Linked DNA regions of Homo sapiens. The protein of the gene in region 4 interacts with the protein of the main gene of each other region in a pairwise test. Each region holds a gene or a part of one and is shown on either strand. Other genes may lie near its edges. The genes, in order: LDLRAD1, VMA21, SLC7A8 and NINJ2.

The links.
Region 1: the proteins of NINJ2 (region 4) and LDLRAD1 interact in binary tests that used the Homo sapiens proteins (3 or more experiments, as listed by UniProt).
Region 2: the proteins of NINJ2 (region 4) and VMA21 interact in binary tests that used the Homo sapiens proteins (3 or more experiments, as listed by UniProt).
Region 3: the proteins of NINJ2 (region 4) and SLC7A8 interact in binary tests that used the Homo sapiens proteins (3 or more experiments, as listed by UniProt).

What each region holds. Positions count from the first base shown.
Region 1 is NC_000001.11:54,008,187-54,015,186, forward strand, and holds part of LDLRAD1 (low-density lipoprotein receptor class A domain-containing protein 1), read right to left. Parts: intron 6,179-7,000; coding exon 6,050-6,178; intron 4,095-6,049; coding exon 3,957-4,094; intron 2,225-3,956; coding exon 2,096-2,224; intron 945-2,095; coding exon 796-944; 3' UTR 1-795.
Region 2 is NC_000023.11:151,400,198-151,407,227, reverse strand, and holds part of VMA21 (vacuolar ATPase assembly integral membrane protein VMA21), read right to left. Parts: intron 3,598-7,030; coding exon 3,488-3,597; intron 2,313-3,487; coding exon 2,170-2,312; 3' UTR 1-2,169. UniProt on the Homo sapiens protein: Required for the assembly of the V0 complex of the vacuolar ATPase (V-ATPase) in the endoplasmic reticulum.
Region 3 is NC_000014.9:23,180,660-23,188,259, forward strand, and holds the start of SLC7A8 (large neutral amino acids transporter small subunit 2), read right to left. Parts: upstream 3,002-7,600; 5' UTR 2,256-3,001; coding exon 2,105-2,255; intron 1-2,104. UniProt on the Homo sapiens protein: Associates with SLC3A2 to form a functional heterodimeric complex that translocates small and large neutral amino acids with broad specificity and a stoichiometry of 1:1.
Region 4 is NC_000012.12:660,437-668,117, forward strand, and holds the start of NINJ2 (ninjurin-2), read right to left. Parts: upstream 3,010-7,681; 5' UTR 2,925-3,009; coding exon 2,892-2,924; intron 1-2,891. UniProt on the Homo sapiens protein: Its role in unclear. In contrast to NINJ1 paralog, does not mediate plasma membrane rupture (cytolysis) downstream of necroptotic and pyroptotic programmed cell death.

The DNA.
Region 1 (7,000 bases), on a different chromosome or scaffold from region 4:
GGGTGGCTTCCCACTGGTAGGATGCCAGATATCCTGTTTCATGTGCTGTGTCACTTGGTTAAATCAGTAGAGCCTGCTGGGTTAACTAAACTGGGGAAGATGCTAAAGTTGCATCCAAGCCCAGTATATCTGCCTTAGGTACCAAAGGGGTAGGAAGTGGCATATGTTTCACGTATGTGCCATCCATGAAGGCTAAACTCGGCTTGTCATTTAAGCCCCAGACATGTCATCACTCTAAGGGATGACGAGATTAGGATCCACAAGTATGCCTTGGAGCAGTTAGCAGATTTCCTCTGTGTGGCCCCAGAGACAGGCATGAAATCATGGAAGCAGATTCCCTTCGTCTTTGTTTGTGTTTGTGTTTTGTTTCATTTTTTTTTTGAGACAGGGTCTCACTGTGTTGCTCAGGCTGGAGTGCAGTGGTGTGGTCACAGCTCACTGCAGCCTTGACCTCCTGGGTTCACACAGTCCTCCCACCTCAGCCTCCCTAGTAGCTGGGACTATAGGTGTGCACCGCCATGCCTGGCTAATTTTTGTATTTTTGGTAGAGACGGGGTTCCACCACATCATCTTTGTTAGAAGCCACCTAACATGGTAATGAGCTCCTGGTCATTGGAAGCATTCAAGCAGAGGCTGAACAACTTGAAAGGAGGAGAGAAAATTCCTATTCAGAAATGATGTGTAGATCCCATTTCAAAGGCTGCTTCCTGCCCTTGTGCGCTAGGATTTGATTTTCATGTGAAGGGTTATCAGTGCCATTCCAGCCAGCCTTCCATGCTGGCCTGAGTGGCCCACTCAGGGTCCGGGACAGGCATACTCATCGGACCAGTCGGAGCAGTGCTGTACATGGTCGCGGCAGAGATGCCTCGGTATACAGTCGCAGTACTTGAAGAAGGTTGAAGGACAGCGCCACCACCCAGGGCCGCAGGGTGGGCACACAGTTACTGCAGAGACAAGAGCCAGCAGGAGAGCAGTTGCTGTGTCCTGGAACGCTCTGTGCACCAGGGCACTCCCTAGTTCTGAAACCTGCCGTAGCTCCCCATGGCCCCAACCCATCTGACGTGAGTTGAGTGTGTTCCTAGTTTTCCTGCGGCAGAGAGAATCTAGACTCCACAGCTCACAGGCTATGTGACCTCCCTCACCCTGTCTGAAACTGTTTCCTAGTGTGCTCAAGCTTGTTATCAAGCAAAGGATGTCAGGCAAAGTCCCAGGCACACGGTAAAGACTGCAATATGAATGGGTGCCCTTCCTTACCCTGAGTCCAGCTATGCTCACCTGCCATGACTGCCTGAGGGTGCTCCTAGCCTTCTCTCCTCTGCTCAGGCCTCCGGCATTCCTCCCCACACACCCAGCCTCTACCTACTGAAACCCGTCTATTCTTGGTCTTCTTGAATGCTACCTCTTCTGAGAAATCTCCCTTGATTCCTCCAGGTCCCCAGCACCTCCTTTCGGCATCAGCATGATGTGAGTCCTGGGGGTAGGACACATGCCTGATTCCTGATGTCCCCCACCTGAATCTGATACCAGGTGCGTTCTGAGCACCCCACCAATGCTCAGAACATGTTTGTTGATTGACCACTGGGGAAGAGATTGAGAGGAAACTCTAGGGCAGCTACAGGACTCGGGACTTGGATCAGGAGGCCTGGGTTCACACCTGAGCTCCCTTCCTGTCACACATTGTACTAAGTTTCTCCTCTCAAAGCCTCCATTTACTTACATACAAATTGGGGCCAGTGATTCCTGCCCTGCTTTCCTCACAGGGTCACTGGGAGGTGCAGAGATAAGGGAACCCCAGGTTCAAATCCCAGCTGGGCCATGTATGTACTCCTTGCATGACCACCTTCTGGGACCCAGTTTTCTCATCTGTGCCTTTGAAGGTGACTTCCCCACTGCAGAAGAATGAGCCTCCAGAAAAAGTCACTTGGAGTGGTAGTGAGTACCCCATCACAGGATGTATTCAAGCAGGGGTAGAAAACTCCTTCCTAGGATGCAGGGAAGCATGCAAGGGGGAGCCCTAGAGATTCCCTGCTCACCCTTTGCCCTCTGGCTGCTGCCTGGACACCAGCCCCAGCCCAGCCTGTGCCCAGACCCCTACCTGGGCTCAGTTCATCTGAACAGTCCCCGCAGTTGTTAGTGCCATCACATTTTTGGTCTGAGTAGATCCAGGAGGCCGGGTCTCCACAGTGGGCCACAAGGAAGTGGGGGAGGCTCTGGGGCACATCTCCTGTAGAGGTACAGAGGAGGCAGGAAGAAGTCCACATCTGGCCACAGCTGTCTGAGGGTTATCGGGAGGAGGATTGACCACCCTGGCAGTGGCCAAACTCAGGATCAGTGCCCATCCAGCCCAGAAGGGTGCAAGCAGAAGGTTTCCTGGGGAGGTGGTGGAGTCAGAGGGAGAGGAGAGCTCCGTTGCTGGACAGAGGCCCAGAGATCTGCCCCTCCCTTCCTCAGTTCCTCCCCAGCTCTGGTGTGTTCCTGCCCCACACCACTGCTGACACTATGCCCCCCTCCACAAAGAGCCTCCTTGACACCTATCCAAAACCATTCTTTCAAGTTCAGGTTCAAGTTCCATCACCTCCAGGAAGCCTCTTCCAACTGGAACATCACAGGAATAAATGTGGAGTCTTACAGTTGGGCCCCGGATCTCAGGGGAAGATCTAGGGTTCACACACCTTGTAAGGCAGAGTCAGAGCACCTTTCTTGAAAGTGTGTTCTGTTAGGCAGCAGTGTGATAGGGCTATCAAAAATTCACACAAACTCAGGCCACATCACTAGAGGTAGAAAACCTTGGGCAGGGAGGGAGCAAGATTCTGTTCGTTAGACTGCCCAGACCCAGCTAGAAGGGCTGAGGATGTTTCTGAGGCCTGTCCAGGGACGGGGACATGGGAAGTTGATATTCATTCTGTGGAGCATTGATGGAGTGGGGAGGGCCAGGAACTGGGTCACAAGGGGGCTGACTGTGACCTGGAGAAGGGGATGTGGCGTAGAGAAGAGAAACCTCATGGAGGGCAAGGGAGCAATCTTCAAATCCATGCAGCACCACCATCATGGCAGAAATTAAAGTGTGGTCTATCGGGGCAGGGTTGACAGAAGGACAGAGTTGGAACCAATCAGGGAGGAACCACTCTGGGAGGCAGCTCTAAGCCTGGGACAAGGAAAACCTTCCCATGGAAAAACCTTCCAATCCTTGCATCCCCTGGGATGCAAGCAGAGGCTGGGTGGCCTCGGTTGGGCTTGCTAGAGAGGGGATTGGGGATGAGCTGGGGCAAGGACTAGATGCTTTTGAGATTGCTTCTTGTCCTGAGGGTCTGTGATGCAATGACTCTCCCTCCATGAGCTCCCCCACCCCACCCACTGCACCTCTCCAGGCTCTCTCTCTCCTGTGGGGTCAGGCTCCTCTCTCCTGAGAACCTTCAGGTGTGTCTAAGGTCTGGGGCCAGGTCTTCCCATTCATTCATTCGCTCATTCATTCAGCAAGCCGTTCTGAATACCCCTCTGTGCTAGGCACTGGGGCCCCGATATCAAGCGGACTGGGCCTGCCTCAGAGGAGTTCACAGTCTGATGGGGGTGGCAGATGTGCCAATCAAGAGCGACAACCAGTGTGACAAGGGCTGGGACACAGGGAATCACAGGGACTGTGGAAGCCCAAAGGAGACACTTTAACCTAGTGTGGGAGTCAGGGAAGGCTTCCTGGAGGAGGTAACATTTGAACTCTGCCTTGAGGGATGAATACGGGTTCTCTGGGAGTGGAGACGCACAGGGTGAAGGCATTCCTTAGTGGGGGCATGTATGTGTGTCCCTGACTGGGACCAGGTCGGGGCAGGTGTTCCTGGATGAAGGCACTGGAGCATCAAAGCCATGGGGACTTGAAGGTGCCTGATGTGTTCAGTATGGATGCCAAGAGCATCGGAGTGTGGGGGAACCCCTGGGAGGGGCAGCACCGAGCGGGTACTCACGGCACAAGCTCTCATCCTCGTCCTCGCCGTGGGTACAGGTGCGAACGCCATCACAGACCCCACTGGCTGGAATGCAGCTCCTCTGGTCATGGCACAAGAAGCCTGTCCTGTTTGTCAGTGTTATACAAGCTTGGGCTCCTGAATGGGCAGGGAAAGGCCCTGGAGGGTCAAGGGTGGTGCTCACAAGGACAAACCTTCCTCACCTGAACTCCGCCTAGAGCTGGCCTGAGGGGCTGGGGCAGTGGGGAGGATGGACCCAGCGCCATCAATGGGGTTCAAGCCCCAGCTGTACCCGCTGCCGGCTGCCTGATCTTGGGCAGATGACCTGACCACCCTGAGTCTCAGGTTGTTTGCAACATGGGAATCATAGCACACACCCCGTGGGACTGTTGTGGGGATTAAATGAAAGCATCTCTGTGAAGAAACATAGAACAGAAAATGTGCAGAACTAGTAATGGTTCTCTCTTGTATTGAAAACTTATTTACAGTGTCATGGGAAGCTTCTGAGGACAATGTTCAATTCAGTGAAGTGGTTTTAATGGTGGAGCTCCTGGTACCAGGTTAGAGTGTCAGAAGCAATATATTTGGGCTGGCTGGAGGGCCATATGTCATAATTCCTTCTATCTGGGCACAACTGCAAAGCACTTTCATATCTTTATTCTATAGTTCCCCAAACACCCCTGCGACACGTCATCATTAGCCCCCCATATGGGAGGAGAAAAGGAATACCCACTCCTAGGGCTGCCCCAAAGAATTAAAAGGCAGAAACCTACGGACAAGGTAGGAGGAACCCCTTGGCCCCACATGTGTATACGTGTGCATAATTGGGGATGGGAGCCAGTTTGTGCATTTGTGTTTGTGCATGCGTGAACCACCTCTCAGTCCCTGGGCTGCCTCAGCTAGTGTGTGTGGGGGAGGCGGCGGGGGGGAGCAACTCTCAGAGACACTCATGTTGACACAGACACACACAGATGCACACACACATGAACACATGCTCACACACACACTGCTGCACCTATGTGCACACTCACAGATACACAGACAACAGATGTGCACACACGCACTGACACACAGACATGAACATGCATACACAGCTGCGTACACTCATAGACACGCTAAACACACAGATGTGCACACAGGCTCTTGACTGCAGCTGCTCATGTATTCATCCACCTCAGGGTCTGTGTTCCTGCAGGGCAGGGGGAGCGCTGCGAATCTCAGCCCCCGCCCCCACCTCAGCCCTCTATACCCACCCTGCCTGGCTGCAGAGCCATCCTTCAGAAACATCAGCCTGCCCCCAACTTGCCCCCAACTTAATCCCCTTTCTGTGGCTCCTGGACTATGACCTCCCTTCTCGGTGCAGCCTGTGAGGCCCTTGGCACTGGGCCCCACTTGTCACTCCAGCCCTTCCTGTGCACTGGCCTCTTGCAGTCTCTTCTTCTCTTCCTGCTTCCTCCCACCCCTCAGGGCTCCACACATGCTGTTCCCTGTGCCTGGGATGCTTTTCCTGGCATCCCCCCACTACTAATACCCATTGTTCCTACCCTGACTCCTCAATGGGGCTAGACTCTCAGGGCTCCCAGGGACCCCGCTGTAATGTGTATTCACGTCTAGACGGCTCTCGGAACAGTTATTAGCTCCTTGAAGGCAGGCACTGTGTTGGGGTTGTTCACCCCTGAAGCTGGGGCTGCAGGCATGTATGGGATGTCACCCGGTCCCCTGTGGTGGAGATGGGCACACAGTTGGATAGCACCACCCCGGGGTGGCCAGGCCAGGGGAAGAGGAAGTGTAGGGACTGGGGGGCTGAGAAGAGGCTCGTAACCCATCCTGGGGGTCTAGGAAGGCATCCTGGAGGAGGTGACATCAGAGCTGGGTCCTCTCAATAATCATGTCACAGATGTGCAAATGGAGGCTCAGAAACAGGTATAGTCAGTGTGTGTGCAGGTGTCTGTGTGTGTCTGTGCATGCACCTTAAGGAATTAGTCCAAAGTCACCTGGTGGAGAAGCCAGGCAGGTCGGGGCTCCCTCATCTCTCTGTGCCCTCCCATGCCCTCCCCGCCGGGTCTGACCCACCCTCTCTTGGCCGCCCTGACCTGGGGTGCATGATGGGAGTCCAAGAATGGTGACCAAGGCGATGAGGGCCGCCACAGTTGCCAGGAGGAGCAGCAGAGAGGCAGAGAGGCAGGCCCCGCGACGTGAGCAGCAGAGGTGGCCGCCGCCTGCTGTGTGGGGGGGAAACAAGCCCGGGGGTGGTGGTGATAGGGGGCCAGCGCTAGGAACAGGGAGCTCCCTCTCCGCCCTGCCCGCTGCAAGCAGCCTCTCCCCCACGAGGGTGAGCAGAGCAGGGATGGCTTCCCTGGAGGAGCAGCTCCCAAGCCCTCCTTGATGCTCTTTGTTCTGCCTGTGGGCCCACCCCACTAGGTGCCACCCTGGCCAGGGGCCCACAGCTGGCTGAATGGCAGAGGCGGACAGCCCTCCCCTCCCACCCGCCATCAGGAGACTTCCTCAGGACGCAGGGAGAGATGGACGCCTGCATGTCCAGCCCCCACCTTGGGGCAGAAGCTCCATTAGGCCCTTCATAAGCGTGCTTTATTTTTCAAAACAACCTTTTATTTTATCAATGAGGAAACTAGGGCTCAGGAAGAAAAGATTCATGTCACCCTGGGTGGAGCTGGCGTGTGAATCCACACCTGTTTGATGCCAAAACCCGTGCCCTTTCCACGATCCCAATTGACTGTCCATTCTGGAGTCTGCTGGGATGCAGGTTGGAATCCCAGCTCTACCGCATCCTACCTGGGCCACACTGAGTAAGCCACTTCACTTCCCTGTGCCTCAGTTTCCTCATGTGGAAAATGGGTACCATAATAGCTACCTTAGACTTTGTTGAGAGGATTAGAATTTGTTGAGTTAATGTGCACAGAGTAAGTGTTGAGTATGAGCTATTATTATTGCTTTTTTTAATTATTATTTTTTATATTTTAGAGATAGGGTCTGGCTCTGTTGCCCAGGCTGCAGTGCAATGGTGCAATCTAGTTCACTGCACC
Region 2 (7,030 bases), on a different chromosome or scaffold from region 4:
TTTGCATATGCCCCTGGTTTAAATACTTGCAGAAAAATACCCATGTATCATCACCTATTCAGCAAATGCCTGAAACCAAAACAATAATCCAACATTGGACAGTAACATTTTACAAACAGCATAAGATCCCAAAAGCACAAGAAATACCTTGGCATTATATAAAAAGAAATTAGGTGGACAATTCTAAATACAACAATACTTCTTAATTAGGGACCATCTAGAAATCTACCACATACTACCCTAGACTCAAATGTCATTATACTAAAATTGTAGTCTTTAAGCAAGAATTAAAAACAGTTCCATAATAATCATACTGATCTTTCACTTTTCTCAACAGTTAAACACAAATGCTATTTGACTTTTATGACTAATCATCCCTCTATTCCTTTAGTCCAGTTTCACAACATAAAAAATAAATGTGAACAACAAATCGGTAATGGTTTCACATACTTAAGCAAGAATCCTAGTATTAGGATTATCAGTAACAGAAAATTTGAATTTTAAGAGAATAAAGATAGAATGTGCTTATTTAGAAAATGGTCAATAAGGCCGGGCGTGGTAGCTCACGCCTGTAATCCCAGCACTTTCGGAGGCCGAGGCGGGTGGATCACCTGAGGTCACAAGTTCAAGATTAGCCTGGACAACATGGTGAAACCCCGTCTCTACAAAAAAATACAAAAAAAAATTAGCCAGGCGTGGTGGCAGGCATCCGTAGTCCCAGCTACTTGGGAGGCTGAGGTGGAGAATCACTTGAACCCAGGAGGCAGAGGTTGCAGTGAGCCGAGATTGCACCACTGCACTCCAGCCTGGGCAACAGAGCAAAACTCTGTCTCAAAAAAATAAATAAATAAAATAAAGAAAAAGAAAAAGAAAATGGCCAATAATCACTCATCTGAAAAAAATGCAAATAGCTGTCAGGAAAAGCTGGCAGAATTTGAACTTGTAAGCTAAACTTTTAGTGTGTATCAAACTAGCATTAAGGAATGGCTTTCAAAAATGAATACGGGATATCAACTAAAATAGAGGTTATTTTTAGATGGCAACATTATGGGGAATTTTGATTTTTTTTCCTGTTTGAATATGTATTTTTCCAGTTTTCTACAAAGAACATATACTATGATTTTATAATTAAAAAACAAATACTTGTGGGAGTGTTTTTAGATTGCACATAATTAGTACCAAATAACTAGAAAGAACACAGACTAAAGATACGAAAATAAAATCAAGGTTTTTTTCCATCAGATATGCCCAAGGAGAATACTTTTTGGATGAAAAAAAAATGTTTTCCAGATTGTTTCCACTCCTAACATATGCAAAAATGAACATATTTAAATGCAAATTCCTATCATATACACTACAATTTTAAAAAATAGTAAAAAAAACAATTTTAAATGGAGCTTCCTCGAACCTTTTAATTGAAGCCTAGCTTCAATGTTGAATGAGGAAGCAAAGTATCTCATTAAAAAGTTGGTCTGCAAAGCACAAAGCTGGCCTGCAAGGGGACTTGAAGGAAGCAGGCTGAGTGTTTGAGTAGTGAGATCTTTGCTTTGCTCTTTAGATCCTTCAGTAAGCTAAGGTCCTTTTACCTGAATGGATGTAATTTAGCCTAGTTTTCCCATAAAATAATGTAATGGATAATTCTTATTGACTAGGGATTACACTTCATGTGAAATTCCTCAGTGACATTCAGATTAATTCCAGTGTCCACAATTTAAGCAACTTTCCATAGGAAATTAAAATCCCAAATCCAAGGACCTGGTATTTTCATGCTAAAGAAAGCATTCCAGCGTAAAGTGGAGTTTAATTTGCTTCACTGTGTGCATCTTAATATATCCAAATGAGTAAAACTCAAAAGCAACCGTAAGTCAGAATACTATAAAACATGTTTTGTTGAAAGAAGATAAAATTCCTTCCAGAGTATTGTCTAATTAAATTAACATATTTCTTTGTAACTAACTTTTCCAAATTCTCATTTGCAAATCAGATTCATACAGTTAAAACTGAATATACAAACCAACATATTAGAAAGATCAAAATTTACATACTCAAACGTGACTCCTTAAGACTGACTTTAACATGTTCTTTCAACTTTATTCAAATCAGATGGCCCCCTCCAGCATTTATCATTTTAAAAAATGAATTTAATGCTATAAAAAGGTGATGTTCACTTTAATCCTGTTTGCCTTCACGCCACTGTCGTGAGCCTTCATTCCAGGCCACATACACAAAGAGGGCCAGCACCACATGGACGGCGACCACTGCAACAATAGCAGCGTAAAAATAGCTGTCCCTATTGGACATCCCAAGGGCGCCTATCAAGAGAAAAAAAACAGTTTCCATTTTATTGCAAAATTTACCAAAGTACAAAAAAAAAAAACAAAGCATCCTAATTTTTATGATGTATTTATTTAACTAGTCAGGCAATTAAAAAGTAATATTTTGGGTGGTAATGAATAAAGTATTCACTAAAAGATATGAGTACCTTCTATATATTAAGAACATTATGTTGGCCGGGTGCAGTGGCTCACGCCTGTAATCCCAGCACTTTGGGAGGCCAAGACGGGCAGATCACGAGGTCAGGAGATGGAAACCATCCTGGCTAGCACCGTGAAACCCCGTCTCTACTAAAAATACAAAAAAAATTAGCCAGGCGTAGTGGCAGGCGCCTGTAGTCCCAGCTACTCGGGAGGCTGAGGCAGCAGAATGGCGTGAACCTGGGAGGCAGAGCTTGACGCGAGCCGAGATCGCACCACTGCACTCCAGCCTGGGTGACTGAGCGAGACTCCGTCTCAAAAACAAACAAACAAACAAACAAACATTGTTTTAAACAAAACCATAATTATAAAGACTTCAGGCCGGGTGCGGTGGCTCACGCTTGTAATCCCAGCACTCTGGGAGGCCGAGGCGGGTGGATCACCTGAGGTCACGAGTTCGAGACCAGCCTGGCCAACATGGCGAAACCCCGTCTCTACTAAAAATACCAAAAATCAGTCGGGTGTAGTGGCGGGTGCCTGTAATCCCAGATACTCAGGAGGCTGAGACAGGAGAATCGCTTGAACATGGGAGGCGGGGGTTGCGGTGAGCCGAGATCGCGCCATTGCACTCCAGCCTGTGCAACAAGAGTGAAACTGTCTCAAAAAAAAAAAAAAAATTTCAACATCAAAAAGGGGACTTCATTCTCTCTTCCTTCCGTTATCTGACACTAAAGTCCATTCCCCCAAAATTCCTCCTCCCATGTCAGCCAACCCCTATTCTTTAAAAGGTACTAAGAGAAAGGATTTGCAAGCTATTTCACAGAAAACCATAGGAAAACTGTCAAGCTGAAACAATAAGTTATTTCATAAAGACTCATTATGAGCAATATGATTTTTTGAAAAGCTAAACAAGAAAAAAATAAGAATACCCAGTTTAAAGATATAAAGAGGTCATAAAAGCACAGAATCTTAAATTGGGGGAAAACATCTTGTTTTAATGGGTCTAAGATTACCTTCAAATATGTAAGATTTAGTTGTGAAATATAACCCAATAGGAACAGTGATCATTAAAGCTGTGAAGAACAGGAGCGTCTTCAGTGTAGATGCTAATGAGCTTTCATTTCTGGAATAAAGTAAACAAAGAGAAAATCAGAACCTGCACAGTCATATCCAAACGCTCTTATGTCCCTGAAACTATAAACATCCACAAATGAGATGCTATGCAGGAGGAAGATCACAGGCAGGGACTCGTAATCCGAAGATCCTAGAGAACCAGCTGTGGGTAGTGGGAATTTCTTGAGCTGGAACATGAAGATTATACACCACCTTTAGGGACTGTCATTCATATCCAGTGTAAGACGAAGCGTCAGGGCACCTCAGATCAACTGCCAACAAGCTGGGTGAACAAACTAAGTGAAGAAACTCAGTGCCCCTGCCTCTGGAACTGGAGCTTTTACCCAGGGAAGCCACGGCGGACAGCGGCACCAGTGCCCAACCCATGCGGCAACCGTGTCCACCAGCACCAGACACCAGAGCTGGGAACGCAGCAGGCACCATGGGTGGATCAGCGCGCCCTCTTTTGCTGGAATCAGAGCTTCCGTCACGGGAAGCGACCAGCTTGCTGTCCTCCAGCATGAGACAGTGGACCAGGGAACTAACGAGGCAGACACACCTGTGCACCCTCCCACACTGGAATCAGAGCTTTTGCCCAGGGAAGCCACTGTCACACTGGTCCCTGAGCCCACGCAGCAACCCTGACCACCAGCACCGGACACCAGACCAGGGAACTCGGCAGGCACCACAGGTGGAGCAGTGTGCCCTCTCCCGCTGGAATCGGAGCTTGCATCTGGGAAAGCTGCCAGCCTCCTGTCCTCCAGCACCAGACAGTGGACCAGCAAACTAACCAGGTGGAGCCGACGCACCAGCGTGCCCTCCCCCACTGGGATCAGAGCTTTGGCCCAGGGAAGCCACTGCCACACCAGTCCCTGAGCCCGTGCAGCAACCCTGACCACCAGCACCAGACACCAGACCACTGAAGGAGGTAGGCAGGGCGAACGGACCAGTGCGCCCTCCCCAGCTGGAATAGGAACTTCTGTTATGGGTGAAAAATCGAGCTAGAGGGAATACTTCCAAACACGTTTTAAGAGGCTCCAATCACCTTGATACCTAAGCCAGACAGACACAGCAAGAAAACTACAGGACAACATCACTGATGAACACTGGTGCAAAATTCCTCAATAACATATTTTCAAACCAAATTCAACAATAATCAGGCCAGGTGTGGTGGCTCACACCTGTAATCCCAGCACTTTGGGAGGCCGAGGCAGGCGGATCACTTGAGGCCAGGAGTTCGAGATCAGCCTGGCCAACATGGCAAAACCCAGTCTCTACTAAAAATACAAAAATTAGCTGAGAGTGGTGGCGTGTGCCTATAGTCCCAGCTACTTGGGAGGCCAAGGCACAAGAATCCCTTGATCCTGGGAGGCAGAGGTTGCAATGAGCCAAAATCACACTCCAGTCTGGGCAACAGAGCAAGACTCTGTCACAAACAAACAAAACCAATACATCAAAAAGATTATATATTATGACCAAGTAGGATCATCTCAGTTGATGCAGAAAAAGCACTTGACAAACTTCCGCATCCTTTACTGAGCTGAAAAAGAAATCAAGAAAACAATCTCATTTATAATAGCATTAAAAAAAAATACTTAGGGGCCAGGCTCAGTGGCTCATGCCTGTAATCCCAGCACTTTGGGAAGGCTGAGGCTTGAGGCCGGGAGTTTGACGCAAGCCTAGGTAACACAGCAAAACCCCACCTCTACAAAAAAAAATTTTGATAATTCGCTGGGCATGGTGGCACGTGCCTGTAATCTCAGCTACTCAAGAGGCTGAAGTGGGAGGATTGTTTGAGCCCCAGAGGTCAAGGCTGCAGTGAGCAGTGATTGGGGCACTTTACTCTGGCCTGGGTGACAGAGCAAGACTCTATTTCAAAAAAAAAGAAACTTAGGAATAAATTTAACCAAGGCGATGAGTGACTTGTACACTGAAAAGTATAAAACACTGATGAAAGAAATTGAAGATGACACAAATAAATGTAAAGATATCCTGTGTTCATGGATTGGAAGAATTAATACTGTTGAAATGTCTACAGCACCCAAAGCAACATACAGATATAACACAATCTCTATCAAAATTACAGTAGCATTCTTCATTAAAATAGAAAAACAATCCTAAAATTCATCATACAGAACCACAAAAAGCCCCAAATAGCCAAAGCAACATTGAAAAAGTTGTAAGCATCACACTTTCTGATTTAAAATATTACAGTTATAGTAATCAAAACAATATGGTATTGGCATAAAAACAGAAACATATAACAATGAAACAGAATAGAGCCCAGAAATAAATCCAAACATATATGGCCAACTAATCTTCGACAGGGGTGTTAAGAGGAACACAATGGGGAAAGGACAGTCCCTTCAATAAGTGGTACTGGGAAAACAGGATTTCTACATGCAAAGAAAAAAACTGGACTCTTACACCATAAACAAAAATCAACCCAAAATGGATAAAATAACTAAAACATAAAGATATAAAGTTTTAAGACATAAAAGAACACAGAGGGAAAGGTCCTTAACATTGGCCTCAGTAATGATTTTTTGGATATCACACCAAAAGCTCAGGCTACAAAAGAAAAAATAAAGCGGCTTGCATCAAACTAAAAAGCTTCTGTACTGCAAAGGAAACAATCAACAAAATGAAAAGGCAGCTTACAGACTAGGAAAACATATTTGCGAACCACCTATCTTGTAAGGGGTTAATACCCCAAAATTTATAAAGAACTCTTACAACTCAGCAGAAAAACCACCTGATTAAAATATGGACAACAGCTGGACAGACATTTCTCCAAAGACATAAAAATGGCCAAGAGATAAATGAAAATGTGCTCAACATCACTAAATCATCAGGGAAATGCAAATCAAAACCACTATGAGATATAACCTCACACTTCTAAGGACAGCTATTATCAAAAAGGCAAGTGATAACAAATGTTTGTAAAAGTGTGGAGAAAAAGAAACCCTACTACATTGTGACTGGAAATGTAGACTGGTACAGCCATTATGGAAAACAGTTCCTAAAGAAATTAAAAATAGAACTACCACACAGCCCAGCAATCTCTCTTCTGGAATATAAGCAAAGGAGATGAAATCACTACCTCGTAAAAATATCTGCACTTCCATGTTCATTGCAGCATTATTCACAATAGCCAAGATTTGAAAACAACCTACGTGTATGTAGACAGACAAAATAAAGAAACCGTAGTGTATATATACAAGGGAATATTTTATTCAGCCTTAAAAGAGGACATCTGCCATTTGCCACAACATGGATGGACCTGGAAGACATGTTAAGTAAAATAAGCCAAACGCAGAAAGACGAATACTACATGAGCTCACTTATATGTGGAATCTTTAAAAAAAAAAAAAAAAGGTCAACGGTCAACTACACAGGGACAGAGAATAAAACAGTAGTTACCATGGCGGTGGGGGTGGGAG
Region 3 (7,600 bases), on a different chromosome or scaffold from region 4:
TGTGGACAAATCAGTAGTAACATATACCCACAGAAATTGTACTTATTATACCTGAACACTCCCATTTCTTCATAATCTTAGAAAAAGATGTTAAAGGAAGAGACAAAAACATCAGTATATAGGAAAATACCCTCTACCCTTGAATACCTGAACCTGGAGATCGAGACCATCCTGGTTAACACGGTGAAACCCCGTCTCTACTAAAAATACAAAAAAAATTAGCAGGGCGTGGTGGTGGGCGCCTGTAGTCCCAGCTACTCGGGAGGCTGAGGCAGGAGAATGGCGTGAACCCGGGAGGCGGAGCTTGCAGTGAGCCGAGATCGCGCCACTGCACTCCAGCCTGGGCCACAGAGCGAGACTCCGTCTGAACAAAAAAAAAGAATACCTGAACCTATATTGGGAAGGGCGAGCCAGGCTGAGGCAGGAAGGATGTTTAATTGTGCTTGTGTGCCTGTGGGCGTGCGCATCTGTGTATAAGTCAGAACCTTCCTAGAGGGGGAAAATGCTTAATTCTGTCAGTCAAATTGGTGAACGGGCTATTTATAGACCTTAAACTGGCATGTGCTATACATACTGAATACTTGGCTGTTCTCATTTCTTTTGAACAATTGAGATAAAGTAAAGGAGAGGCAAAAAAAATGTCATGAGAAAAAGTAAAGAGAGATTCAGATCATGACTACAATTTTTCTTATAACATTATCTTTCTTATAACTGTAGATGGCCTGGAAAACTTCCCAGAGTCAGGGAATCACATAAAATAGGATTCCAGGGTGTAGGAGGAGTTGGTGGGGGTGGGGGGGGGATGGGATTTCATTTTAGAGACTGAAGAGAGCTTGGTCACTGAAGTTCTGGGTGTAGAGGTGAAGAGGATTATCTGAATACTGCACTGATTTTATTTGATTTCAAGAGTGCTCTCCAGTGTCACTATTGCTCAGATGCCAAAATATCTCTGAGCTATTGCATAGAACATGGCGTCAGCCAGAGAAACTGGTTCAGGGGCACCAGGACACAACGAGCTCTCATAAAGGAACTCTGGAGAGATGACAAAGAAGCATATCTATGCCTGACCGTCCTGCACTCCTTTTTCTGGGAAGAAAGTAAAGCCCCCTACCAAAGATAGCAGAACAATCTCTCACTCTGAAGTGAGGGCAGGAATAGTGAGCTATTGCCTGCCATCCATCTCCAAGGCTTCTCTGGAAAGAGGATGTGCTGTCTAGAGACGAAGCTGTATTTGGGACTCCTGCCCTGCAAAGTACATTCAGGGGGTTTGAGTGGCCTGCACTGGCACTCTTGGGGCCACCCAGGTTCCCCACCTTCAGCACCTCCCAGCTAGGACACATATTTTACCCATCAGTTCCTCCTCAACTCCATATTCTACACATTCTAGTTACTCCTGATTCCCTCTGAGAGCTTCACCGGGTCCTCCGTGGCTGTTAAGAAACAGGTGGACCCCACCAGGCAACTGGAGAAACTGCAAACTCTCCACTTACCGAGAGGCACAATCTGTCCCCTCTTTTCTTCCATAACTTCCCCATCTGTGAAATGGGAATAACAGCCCTGTCACAGCTACTTCACACAGTAAAAGTGCTGCATAAGGTGGAAAACGCTAAAATAAAAAGGCAGGGCATTGCTCTTGCTATTTTTAATACCTATCCCATAGTTTCATTTAACATAAAACTGCAAAATAGCTACCAAATATACCTTAAAAGCCCATCCCCAGCCTGGGAATAATAGCTGCATACAAACTTGTTCAGGTCCCTCAGTCCCTCCTTAAACCTATTGAACTAGAACCTCCAAGTGTCGAGACCAGGACCTGTATTTTTAAGGAGTTCCCAGGCAATGCTAATCATCAGCCGGGTTTCTGACCACGATTTGCTCCATTCTATGAACACTGGGCAGAATCTTTGCCTGGTTTGGAGGAAGAGATGTATGATGTATTTCCTATGCCTCTCAAACTTGACCAGTGGAGGTGAGTTACAGCTCAGGTGACTGACAATCCTTTTCTAAGGAATAGGAAGAACAATAATGCTTTCGAAGGGTTAAGATCTCACAGGAGGACCACCAGAGGGGAGAGGAGGGGTCCGCGGGAAGGAATGGAACTCACCTACGATGATACCACAGGCACTGACCAATCCGATCTCTTTCTTCAGGGCTACTCCGCCCCCTCCGGAACCAGCCTCGGGGCTGGCGTCCGACTCGCCCCCACCTGGGTGTTTCTTTTCGGTGTTGTTTCGGTGCCTGGCTCCTTCTTCCATCCTTCTCAGTAGGATTGCAACCTCAAAAGCTGCCTCCCTTTCTAAATGCGTATTCGTGTAAATATATTGGGAGAGAGCTTTGAATTAGAACGTCCTTTTCCGAAATAGGAACCACTGCTACTCTCTAAAAAAGGCAAGCAGATAAAAGAGAACACGAAAAATATTCCTACTCCGCATTCACACTTTCTGGTCACTCGCGTTTACAAACAAGAAAAGTGTTGCTAAAAAAAAAAAAAAAAAAAAAGGCCAGGGGAGACATACATTTAAATATAAAAATAGAACTGTGCCAGCGACTCCGGCTGGAATTCTGCTGAAAGGGATGTGTCTTCAGAAACCAGGATGGTTCTGCTCTGTGCACCAGGCAGTGGCTTATTCAGAAAGTGAGCCTGGATTTCCCTTCACCTCTCCCCCTAATAAAACAGGAGACTGCCTTTACCTCCCCTTAGTTTTTTCTTTTATGATGAAGACAAAAGTAGTTTTCATTAACGGTAGGAAAAAAGAGCAATCCTCAGGTACTTTCTTCTCTTCTAGAAAAACAAACTGTGAACCTGACGGTGTTGCTCTAGATCTGGTTTCCACCTGCTTTGGGTTTCTTTTCCCTTCCCCGTCTTCTGCTTCCGCCTTTCCCAGGTGTCCTCTTCTTTCTCGCTGGTCTTCGTGCCCTTGTTTTCCTCTTTTCGATCCCCGTTCTACTGCACAGCCGGCCCCATCCCTCTGGTTTCGGGAGAGTGGCTTCTCCACACACTAACGTGCTTCTCTTTAGCGAGGGGTTTTATTCGCCCGCCGAGGCTCCGCCCCTGCCTCCTCTGCTCCCCTCCATCCTCAGTCCCGTCTCCTCCCTCCTCTGCAATTTAAGTATTAGCACAAAGCCCCCAAACAGCACTGAGAAAATGGACTAAGTTATTTCTTTTTGCAATCGTCTCTCGCTTTCTCCATCTTTCTCCTTGCAACCAAGTGGAAGTAAACTCCTTCCACGTCAACTGTTCCGGGAGAGCTCATTAGCTAGTATAATGTTACAGGTCATACAGCATCTGTGAGCTTTATAAATCAGGGAACAGTTGTGCCGATACTTTTAATGCCATCAGAAATAAACTAGCCAATGTATTAAAAAATATTTAGGACTGGATCCTGTATTTGAGAATACAGGAGAGAACGTTGAAAGGACATCATCTTCGAGTTTCCTAAAAATAGGGGGAATCGACGGGTGGGGGAGGGAAATGGAAGGAATTAACAATGGGAAAAAGGTTCTTTTAGCGTAATTGTGAGCTACGAAGAGTACAGAGGAAACAAAATCGCCAGGCGCGGTGGCTCACGCCTGTAATCCCAGCGCTTTGGGAGGCTGACAGGGGAGGATCACGTGAGCCCAGGAGTCTGAGACCAGCCTGTGCAACAGAGCGAGACCCCGTCTACTAAAAATTTTAAAATTAGCCGGGTGCAGTGGTGCAGGCCTGTAGTCTTAGCTACTCAGGAGGCTGAGGCTGGAGGATTGCTTGAGCTCAGGAGGTCAAGGCTGCAGTGAGCTATGATGACGCCACTGCACTCCAGCCTGGGAGGTAGAGCAAGACCCTGTCTCAAAAACAAAACAAAACAAAAAGCCAGAAAAACCACATGCACATACAAAAAGATAAAAAACAAAATCACCAGGTAGCCTTGTTGTTCACAGCTCTTATTTAGGACTGGCTGAAACATGAAAAAAAATGACTCAAACCCTGATCCTGCAACTTCTAATATTTTTGCATTTATAAACTATTTGAAAAGCACACATGGGGAATTATCAGTATATCGCTGATCATGAAACATACTTGTTGATGTTAGAATAACTAGCTTATTACCATATCGAAATGATGCCTCCACTTTCTTGAAGAATTTCACTCAGAAACTGCTGCCTTAAGGTGAGAGCAACAATGTCTATTTATAATTGTAAATTATTTCGAAAAAACAGCATGAAGCAATATAGTGGACAACACTATAAGTCTAAAATAAAGTTATTTTTAGCCTTATTAAATATATTATGCAAAATTATTTAATTTTAAAGTGGGCCTAAAAAATTAAGTTCCCCCAAACTGACCCCTAACTACAAAAATTTGGCCTCACTTTCTGGAAAATGTTCCAAAAGATTTTGGGTTTTAAGGAAAATAAATACTTAATTCCTTAAAATGAGGTTTGTTGAGCTATCATAGCAAAAGCTTTTTCAAATGGGGTAAAGTCCAATCAGCAGTCATCTGCCCCCTTGATCACTCAGCAAGTATTAAGAGGTTTCAAAGGTTGGGAGGAACTTCCTCTCCTCCTTTTGCTAGTTCAAGACACAGCAAATTGAAAGACTCAGCAAAAAAAAAACAACAAACAACAACAAAAAAAACCAGACAAGGCAGGGAATATATAGCACGAAACTCCATGGGAGGGAATGAGTCATGGGAAATGAAAAAATGTCGAATTTGCCTCTAGCCTTTCCTGACAACCTTAGAAAGCACTGAGGAAAAATTTGATAGATTCATTTGTATACATTCAGATTTGAAGACTTCTGCTCCGATTTCAACATCACCATATAAAACAAATAATGTTTCTGCTTCTTAAACGTGAGTTCTTTCAGTAATATTTGGTAGTTCTAATTTATATGATGCAGACTTAATGTGGGATAAAACATGAATGTGATGAATTTGAGGTCTCTTGCTAAAACCAGTGCAAACTGATAACGATATGGTAAGCTTTAGCCCTCTCAAATTATGAACTAAGAAGCTAAGGGGGTTATGGGATCAAATACGTTCTTGGAATACAGCGGTACTAGGTGCACACGTTGGAAAGGAAGAGTTGCTGAAGATTAGTATTTCTATTTCTTTAGCACTTGGAATTTATAAGTGGCTTATTACCATTGATTACTGGTGCGATGTAATATCTAGGAAAGGGGCTGGGCACGGTGGCTCATGCCTGTAATTCCAGCACTTTGGGAGGCCGAAGCAGGTGGAGTGCTTGAACTCAGGAGTTCAAGACCAGACTGGGCAATGTGGTGAAACCCCATCTCTACAAAAAATACAAAAATTAGCTGGGTGTGGTGGCTCACGCCTGTAATCCCAGCTACTCAGGAGGCTGAGGTGGGAGGATCGTGTGAGCCATGGAGGTTGAGGCTGCAATGAGCCAAGATCGCACCACTGCACTCCAGCCTGGGTGGCAAAGTGAGACCCTGTCTTTAAAAAAACCAAACCAAAACAAACAAACAAACAAAGCTAGGAAAGGAATCTCCCCACTTTCAAAGGGAGCATTATTTATATTAAGTGCCTCTCTGTAGGTTGGAATCTTTTTGTGACATAAACTCTTAAGTGTGTCAAAATTCCAGGTGACTAACATTGAACACAAGAGAGAAAGAAAAGCCTTGGTGTAATATGTTGACAAAAATCTGTAAAAAATTACAAACTAATGTTTATTAAATTTTGAGCATTTTTTTTTTTTTTGAGAAGGAGTCTCGCTCTGCTGCTCTGGCCGGACTGCAGTGGTGCGATCTCGGCTCTCGGCTCACTGCAACCTCTGGCTCCTAGGTTCAAGTGATTCTCCTGCCTCAGCCTCCTAAGTAGCTGGGATTACAGGCACCTGCCACCATGCCTGGCTAATTTTTGTGTTTTTAGTAGAGACGGGGTTTCACCCTGTTGGTTAGGCTCGTCTTGAACTCCTAACCTTGTGATCCACCCGCCTCGGCCTCCCAAAGTGCTGGGATTACTCTATTCTGCATTTGCCTTTATATTTTTATTCTATTCTCTACGTTTAAATAGTGCTTTATAGCCCACAAATGGTTTTCTGAACAATATCTCAATTTTTTTCCTCCTCATGTAGTATCTTGGGCAGACGAGGCAGTTATCTTAAAGATTTTAAAAATTAGAAACCTGAGGCTTAAAGAAATATTTTACCTGAGGTAAAAAACAAGACAGTCTATTTGAGGGCAAATGGGAGATTGATAGTTTACACTGAGCACTTTTTCAGGATGCTATAGCTACTGGTCAAAGCCTCAATTTCTTTCACCTGAGGGAAACTCTGTGTTTTTGCTTTGGTGTCTTAACTGTGCCTTTTAGAGACTCACCTTGATCCTAACACTTATCTGCTCAGTGAGACCCACAGGACTTCACCTGGGCCCCCCCAACATTTGTCACCCCCTTCGCACAGTCCTCAGTGTGGCCATATCCCAAGTACGTAGTACAATTCTGTTTCCAATATCGGAGCCACTGTTTCAGCTGTTTTGCGTGCTTCAGATCAGAAGAAATTGATCCCTTTAACTAGGGAAAATTATGGATGAAAGGCCGTTTTCTTACAAATATGGATTTAGAAAGAGAAAGGCTGTGCGTAGCTGACACCTACTGGACAGAAAAGGTTATGGCTTGGGACATGCTGCTTGTGATAGTTAAAACACAAACACACACAACCCCCACGCAGTCATGTTCTAATATTCCCCTACTCCCCCCTTTTTTAGAGACAAGGTCTCACTCTGTCACCCAGGCTGGAGTGTAGTGGCACAATCACAGCTCACAGCAGCCTCAAACTCCTGGGCTCAAGTGATCCTCCCGCCTCAGCCTCCCGAGTAGCTGGGACTACAGATGTGCGCCACCACACCCGGGTTAATATTCCCTTTCAGAGACAAGTTAGACGTGTCTGCTAATGCAAAGGAATAGAGCACAAAGCTCATGCACTCCATTCCTGATTTTTTTTTCTAGATCCAATAGACAGCACTTTATTCTTGCTTTTTGTAACAGAGCTGGGAAGTCTGAGGTTACCAACAAAGGACCCAAATCTCTCCCTGGAGTCAACTCACAGTCCATGCGCTCACTCCATCCTTCTTCTCGTAACTATGTGCCCCATATCTATGTGCTTTAGTTTAAAGCAGAAGGAAACCCTGCTTTAAATTAAAGCCAACTTTCTTCCCAGAGTCCCAGGGATCACTGCCTATGGTCGATTAGATGGGGCCTTCCTGAGCCAGTAGTTTTAGATGCCTTTACTTCATTAGAAAATGAAAAGCAGATGAAAATTAATGAGAAAAGAAGAAAAAATTAAAAAAAGAAAAGGCCAAAATAGGTCAGAAAGAAAGGAAGATGAAATGAGGAGACTCGGTCAGTGATTAAGCCCTTTTTAGTGTATGCTCTGTTTGCCTTTTGGGCATATTCATAAGTTCAAAGGAAGTTGTGTCTTCTAGGGTTTATGCAGTCCTGAGAATTTGGATGCAGCTGACCCTGCTTTGTTATGATGGTTAATTAATTCAGCTCTTCTGGAGATAATGATGAATCCTTGCTCTGACACCAGAGACAAAAATTCCAACAGATTACTCCTCTGTCTGCTGCACTTGGTGGGATTCCATGGAGCCAGCCCAG
Region 4 (7,681 bases):
TTCAAGCAACTCTCCTGCCTCAGCCTCCTGAGTAGCTGGGACTACAGGCGTACACCACCACGCCTAGCTAATTTTTGTATTTTTAGTAGAGACAGGGTTTCACTATGTTGGCCAGGATGGTCTGCAACCCCTGACCTCGTGATCCGCCCACCTCAGACTCCCAAAGTGCTGGGGTTACAGGCGTGAGCCACCTAGCCCGGCCCTGTTATGCTCTTTCTAATGAATACTGAAACTATAAAGATGGCCAGCTATGGTGGCTCACACCTGTAATCCCAGCACTTTGGGAGGCCGAGGCTTGTGGATCATTTGAGGTCAGGAGTGCAAGACTAGCCTGGCCAATATGATGAAACCCTGTCTCTACTAAAAATATGAAAATTAGCCAAGTGTGGTGGTACATGCCTATAATCCCAGCTACTTGGGAAGCTGAGGCAGGAGAATCACTTGAACCCAGGAGGCGGAGGTTGCAGTGAGCTGAGATTTTGCCACTACACTCCACCCTAGGCGACAGAGTGAGACTCCATCTCAAAAAAAACTGTAAAAATAAACATTATAATAAAAAGCTGTCAGCCATTGATGTACCTTTACCACCCATTGGTGATAATTGTACCACATTTTGGGGAAACATTGTTTTAACTAAAGAGTGTTATTGTTTTGTTTTTAGAGATAGGGTCTGGCTCTGCCGCCCAGGCTGGAGTGCAATGGCATGATTGTAGCTCACTGCAACCTTGAACTCCTGGCTTCAAACAATCCTCCCACCTCAGCCTCCCGAGTAGTGGGGACTACAGGTGCATGCCACCATGCCTAGCTAATTACTTTTAAATTTTTAATAGAGATAGGGTCTTGCTATGTTGCCCAGGCTGATCTCTAGCTCTTGAGCTCAAGTGATCCTCCTGCCTCAGCCTCCAAAATGCTAGGATTACAGGCGTAGGCCACCGTGCCCAGCCAAAGGTGGACAATAAATTGTAGAAAATAATGGATAACCTTCTGAGCAAAGGAAAATGTAAGATACAAGAATTAAATAGCATATTAGAAGAGAGTGAATGACAAATGAAGAGAAAGGTACACTAACACCTCAGTTACCTGCTAGAGAGAGACATTCATCCAGCCTAGCCAGTCATTTCCTTCTCCTTCCTCCCACCACCTCTTTCCTTCTGAACCTCTGGTTCAGATGCAGAGTCCTTAGCCTGTAACTCTGGATCGTTCAACCCATCAGCACATAAGAAACTTGCTCTTCTGAGAATGAAAATAAGCAGCAACACAATTTCCTTAACAACCAAGGATCTTATAGAGGCAAGAACTAGAAGTAAGAAGAAAACACATACTAGGGACAGAAGACATGGACTGGAGGTCTTGGGCCAATTAGGTGACCTTATTCCTATCTCAGAGCCTCTCCAACTCATGGCTTCCTCAACTCATTCATTTAACAAATGTTTTCTAAAGCAATGACCGTGTACCAAGAGTTGCCTCATGCACTCGGGCTGCAGCAGTGAATAAAACAGGAGAGGCCCTGCCCTCAGAGATCTTGTGTCCTAGTGAGAGTGACAGGCAATACATACTAAATAAATAAGCAGTGTAACTTTAGGTGGTGAGCAGTGCTATGAAAGAAATTAAACAAATGATAAAGACAAATTGGGGAGGAGGCATCCTGTGAAGAGGTTGGTCAGGGGAGGGCTCCTGGGGGAAGTAACATTTGAGCTGAGACCTGAATGTACTAGGAAGGGCCAGCCAGGAGATAAGCCAGGGAAAGAAGGTTCCAGACAGAGGGACAAGCAAGCCTTGCGGTGGGACCGCTCTCGGGGCTGGCTGCCAATCCAGGAAAACAGCACTGGGTATGCAGTTGTACTAGGTGAATGGTTTTGACACAGCACACCAAGCAGTCCTACAGTTCCCTGGTGGTGTCTCAAGGGCGGAGGGGCCAAGGACAGAGACTCTGCCAGACTCACGCCACCCTGCCCAAAACACACACAGAGAACGAGAGAGAGAGAGAGAGAGAGAGACGCGTGCACATACTCTGCTTCAACAAAACAGCTCTTCTTTAATCCGAAGTGTATATTGGGTGGCTGCTTAAGATTTTGTTCGAGGACCAGGTTCAGGGATCAGAAATTCTTGATCTCAAAAGTCCTTTTCCACACTTTGTTTGATTCTCTGCAATGTTACACAGCCTCAGCAGTGGTCATAGAAGGGTTCGTTCTATTCTATCCATTGGCAAGGAGTCACAGAGTGCAGCTCCCAGCAATCTGGCTCTCCTCTCACCGTAACATCCCACCCTTTCCCCTCCAGCAGTGGACTGGAACCTCTGATGCCTTCCAAGCCCATCCCAGCTACAGAGGGACACACATCTCTGCCTCTTCCTAGGAGATTAGACTGATTTCCTTTCCTTGCACTGTCCAAATGAGACGCTTTCTGTCCTACACAGTAGAGCTTTGTGAAGACAGCCGAGAAACGGCTCAAGTTTTTTCCAACCTGTAAAATGCAAAGTTGGCCAGCTGCCTCTCTTCCTAGCCTCAAAACTCATATATTTCCTGTCTCCCCGGCAGCTCTAAGAGAAGTCTCTACTGTCCTGGGGTTTGGGGAAAGCACTGCTCAGAATGTGAAATCATTTTCTGGTAATACGGATCTAATTAGCTCTTTGACTGACAAGAGGAAGCAGAGGCCAAAAGGGAGTTAACCAATCTGTTTTTCAGATATTTCAAAACAAGTGAAGAACCAGATAGGGAAACAGAGAGAAAGAGAAAATAAAGAGACAAAGCCTAGGGAGCATTTGGAGAAGGGAGTGAGTAAGAAGAGAACGGGGAGGGAGAATATCAAGTGACTAAAGTATCAATCCTCTGTTCTTCCAGCTTCACCTCTACTCCCGGTCTCCCCTCTGCTCTCTTCCAGAGAGAACTTACTTGAAGGTCGATGTTTTCTCTTGCTGATTCCATCTCGCTGCCCTCAAGTCCCTTCACACGCACCGGGTGCCGGGAACAGACTGCGTGGGCTCCTCCAGGCTCCGCCGTCTGAGTCTCTGCTGCTTTCTTCGGGTGGGAGAGAGCACACAGCTGGCGGGACAGACCTGCCATTCATCCCTCTGATGTGGGATGCCCGTCTTGGCTGCAGCCTCTGGGGGAGGTGTGCACCTGCACACACGTGTGAGTGTATGTGTGTGCACATGTGTGTGCTCCAGGAGGTGGCACATGGCACACTGATAGGTGACCTTTTGAGTTGGTAGTGACAGCATCATTTTCACCAGTGGCTCCAGTGACCTTCCAGTCCCAGCGGAGCCATCTGAGGTCACCCAGCCTGCTTTGAGCTAGTAGCTTTATGACTGGCAAAGAAATCCTGCATGTTTATCAAGCAAATTGAAAAACAGCCTGAGGACAACGCTATCTGACTTCACCGCTGGGTCCAGTCCCCAGTCGCCACGGGTGGAGTGACCTCCAGCACAGTCTCAATACTGAGGCAGAGGGATTTCCGTTGTTCTTTGCTTTGTTCCCTATATCCCTAAAAGTTTTTAAAAAAATTGTAGTTTACCTAATAGGCTCCAAAGCATAGGCTTTGTTCTGCAAAGTGAGTGAACAATACGTTTTTACTGACGGATTGTTTGATTCCTTCAACTCCTCCCTTGATTAGCCATAGAGGGAGCAGGGAGTAGTTGTACCTTCGAAGCTTGTTTATGCAAACAGTGGTATTCTCCCTACTTTTAAAATAAAATTACCAGGAGGGAGTCTTTTTTTAGAAAGTTTTTTTTTTCCTCTCCTGTTTACCTTAGAGCCCAAAACTCTTCTGGCTTGTTCCTGAAGCAAGGTTTAGACACAAGCTTGTGCAGGTGTGGGTGTGGGTATGTCTGTAGACGTGCATGGCAGGGTGTTAACCTGTAATCCAATTCAGGGCTTGAAGAGGTGCGGGCAGGAGGAAGACAGGCAGAGTCAACACGTTTACCCTCACCACATTCAAATGTAAAAAAAAAAAAAGGCGATTTCTTCAGTTCTATGAAATGCCTTTATAAGTTCCCATCCCTCTGGACAGTGGTGCGAGGGAGGGTTGGATGATTGGATGGGGGCCATATTTTAGTCTAATCTATGAAGCATAGTTGGATTTAATCATTTAAATGGTAAACAGTCCACTTTAGACACAATGCTCAGTCTTTCGGATTTGCAGAAGATGGCACCTAGGTGCACAGGAGGGCGGGGTGGGGACGGTTCTTGCATCTATCCTGTGGCCTCTCCATCTCGGCTCCTTTCTGTTCTGGAGCTGCTGGGCCCACGGGCCCGCCCGAATTGCTGACTGCTGAGGAGACACAGGTCCTGCTCCTGGGTCTTCTGCTGGCCTTGGTGGCTGATGTCTGATATTAGGCCAGAGTCACTCATGGGTGATTCTCTTTCTGCCTTTGAGATCCAGTGTTCTCCCTTGCTGTCTGCGCTACCTTGGCTCGTGGCAATGTGGACCATCCTGAGACCTGGCTTTGACTTGTATGTGCCCCCATCCCACTGTATCCGCTCAGTGGCCCACATCTCTAAGATAAGCCCCTCGAAATTTTCCTGTGAGATGCTTGACCAGTGCTCCTGAGCCCCCTTAGGCACATGGGGACTGAGGGCTGCTGACGAAGGGCAGGGGAAAGGCAAGCTCAGCCCCACTTCCAGCAGAGTTTGCTCTGATGTGGCTGCTCCAACTGACACAGGGCAGTCTGCGAGGTGATCTCCTTCCACATTCCTGAATGGAAATGAGACCTGGAACCCACTCTTCTCAGCACTCCTTAAAAAGTCTACCAGTAATATCTATCACCCCACCGCTCATAATAATACCACTATGTATCAAGCACTATTCTAAGCACTTTTTTTTTTTTGAGATGGAGTCTCGCTCTGTTGCACAAGCTGGAGTGCAGTGGCGCCATCTCGGCTCACTGCAACTTCTGCCTCCTGGGTTCAAACGATTCTCCTGCCTCAGCCTCCCGAGTAGCTGAGATTACTTCTTCCCATAGTCCCCTTAATCTAGAATCAGAAAATGTACGCTTTGTCTTCTTTTTTTTTTTTTTTTTCCTGTTTGGCTGGGATGTATCTGATGTAGAACTCTATGACAACAATTCAAAGGGAAATGAAGAAATTTAGAAAATCCTCTCTCTCAAGAAAACCTGGTTGTCAAAAATATTGTCTTGGCTGGGCAGCATGGCTCATACCTGTGATCCCAGCACTTCGGGAGGCCAAAGCCGGAGGATCTCTTGAGCCCAGGAGTTCAAGACCAGCTTGAGCAACATAGTGAGATCCCATCTGTAGAAGAACTTTTTGGCTGGACATGGTGGCTCACACCTGTAATCCCAGCATTGTGGGAAGTAGAGGCAGGAGGTCACTTGAGCCCAGGGGTTCAAGACCAGCCTGGGAAACACAGTGAGATCCTGTCTCTACAAAAAAAAAATTTTTTTTTAATTTAGCTAGATGTGGCAGCTTGCAGCACCTGTAGTCCCAGGTACTTGGGAGGCTGAGGTGGGAGGATTGCTTGAGCCTGGGAGCTGAAGGCTGCAGTGAGCTATGATCATGACACTGTACTCCAGCCTGAGTTGACAAAGCAAGACCATGTCTTAAAAAAAAAAAAAAACTTTCTGGAAAACCTTATTTCGGATGCCAGAAGCAAAATATTAACTATTTATTTCTCTTTGCACTCCTGTTGTGAAAATCCTCATTATCTTTTAAATAATATGGATACATCTGGCTGAATAGAGGGAAACAGGAACAAAAAAATGCAAAAGAGAAAAGTACTCGAATATATTTCAAAAAATTTCCTATTAATAAGCACATTGGTTTGAAAAGGAAACAGCTGTAATTGGTTATAATAATGGTTTTGGTTTGGCAAGATCTTTCTGGATTTGGACCTTTCCCCATCTCATAAGCATCATTTGGAAGTAAACAGAAAAAAGGCTTTGGAAAATGGTTTATCTACCATATCACGCTGTAACCCTGGACCAGGGGTCAGCAAAGTTTTTCTTTTTCATTTTTCCCTTTTATAAAATTCAAATTGCTATATGAAGCTTTTTTAATTTTAATTTTAATTTTTTGAGACGGGGTCTCACTCTGTCACCCAGGCTGGTGTGCAGTGGCACAGTCTCTGCTCACTGCAATCTCTGCCTCCTGGGCTTAAGTGATCCTCCCACCTCAGGCCCCAACCCCCAGCCCAGTAGCTGGGATTACAGGCGCGTGCCACCATGCCTGGCTAATTTCTGTATTTTTTGTAGAGACGGGGGTTTCGCCATGTTGCCCAGGCTGGCCTCAAACTCCTGAGCTCAAGCGATCCGCTCACCTCGATCTCTCAAAGTGCTGGAATTACAGGCGTGGGTCACCATGCCCAGCCAGTAAACTTTTTCTGTAAGGGGCCAGAGAGCCAATATTTTTTAGCCTTTGTGTGTCATATGGTTTCTGCTGCGATGACTCACTTCTATAATAATGTGAAAGCAGTCATAGACAACATGTAAATGAACGAGTGTGGGAGTGTTCCAATAAAACTTTATTTACAAAAAGAGTCAGATATTCATAAAAACAGACCGGAGTTGGCTCCACAGGCTATAGTCTGCTGACCCCTGCTCTAGGATTTAATCAGAGTCTTTGAAGTCTAATTCCCACTTGAGAGGCAACTACTGAGTCTCTACCACGTGGATATTGGGTTAAACACTGCGGGGATATAAAAGCACCACATGCACGCCCTGGTGAGACAACTGATGGCAAGGGAAGCTGTAGTGAAGAGTGTTGCTGCCATTTGGCTGGTGCTGAAACTGCACCTACGTGGAGGTTATCACTGTGGGTGGAAATGGTTTCTATTGTTCTTTACTGCTAGGGTGATTTTTGTGGTGTAAAGCCAGAGGGACATTTTTAGGGAGACTGTCTCTTGGAAAGCATATTTTGGAATATCCTTGAACTTACAGATAAGTAGACACTCAGAGTGACTCAGAAACTACTCTGAGTCTAGTTTCATGGAATGAGGGGTCTACAATGAGACCCTAGGTATCTTGCTATGTAGAAGGAGCAAAGCATTGTTGTAGGGTACTGAAGAAGGCAACAGCAAGAAGATCCTTTAATTTTGAATTGTGGGAAAAGCTCTAGGGTGAAAGCCAGGTGGCCTGGATTCCTCTCTGTGTGCTGAGTCACTGTGTTTTTAGGCAAGTCACTTAACTTCTCTGGGGCTTACATTCTTGTTTGTGAATGTGAAGCTATCAAAAGAGTTGATTCCTAAGATCCCTCTAGCTCTTAAATTCTGTTTCTAATGTGTGTTTTGGCCAGGTGTCGTGGCTCACACCTGTAATCCAGCACCGAGGTAGGCAGATCACCTGAGGTCAGGAGTTTGAGACCAGCCTGGACAACATGGTGTAACCCCTCTCTACTAAAAATACAAAAATTAGCTGGGCCTGGTGGTGCATGCCGGTAATCCCAGCTATTTGGGAGGCTGAGGCACAAAAGAATGGCGTGAACCCAGGAGGTGGAGGTTGCAATGAGCCGAGACCACAACACTGCGCTCCAGCCTGGGTGACAGAGTGAGACTCTGTCTCAAAAAAAAAAAAAAAAAAAAAAAGTTTATATTAAATACTTCCTGTGTAACAATATAAAATCTCAGATACAGGTCTGAATTTCAGTGTGTAAAAGTTGAGGGCTAGAAATTATTGGCTTTTTAAAAAATTGAAGCAGAGCAAGAAGAATCTAATGCTTTTAGTTTAATTTTA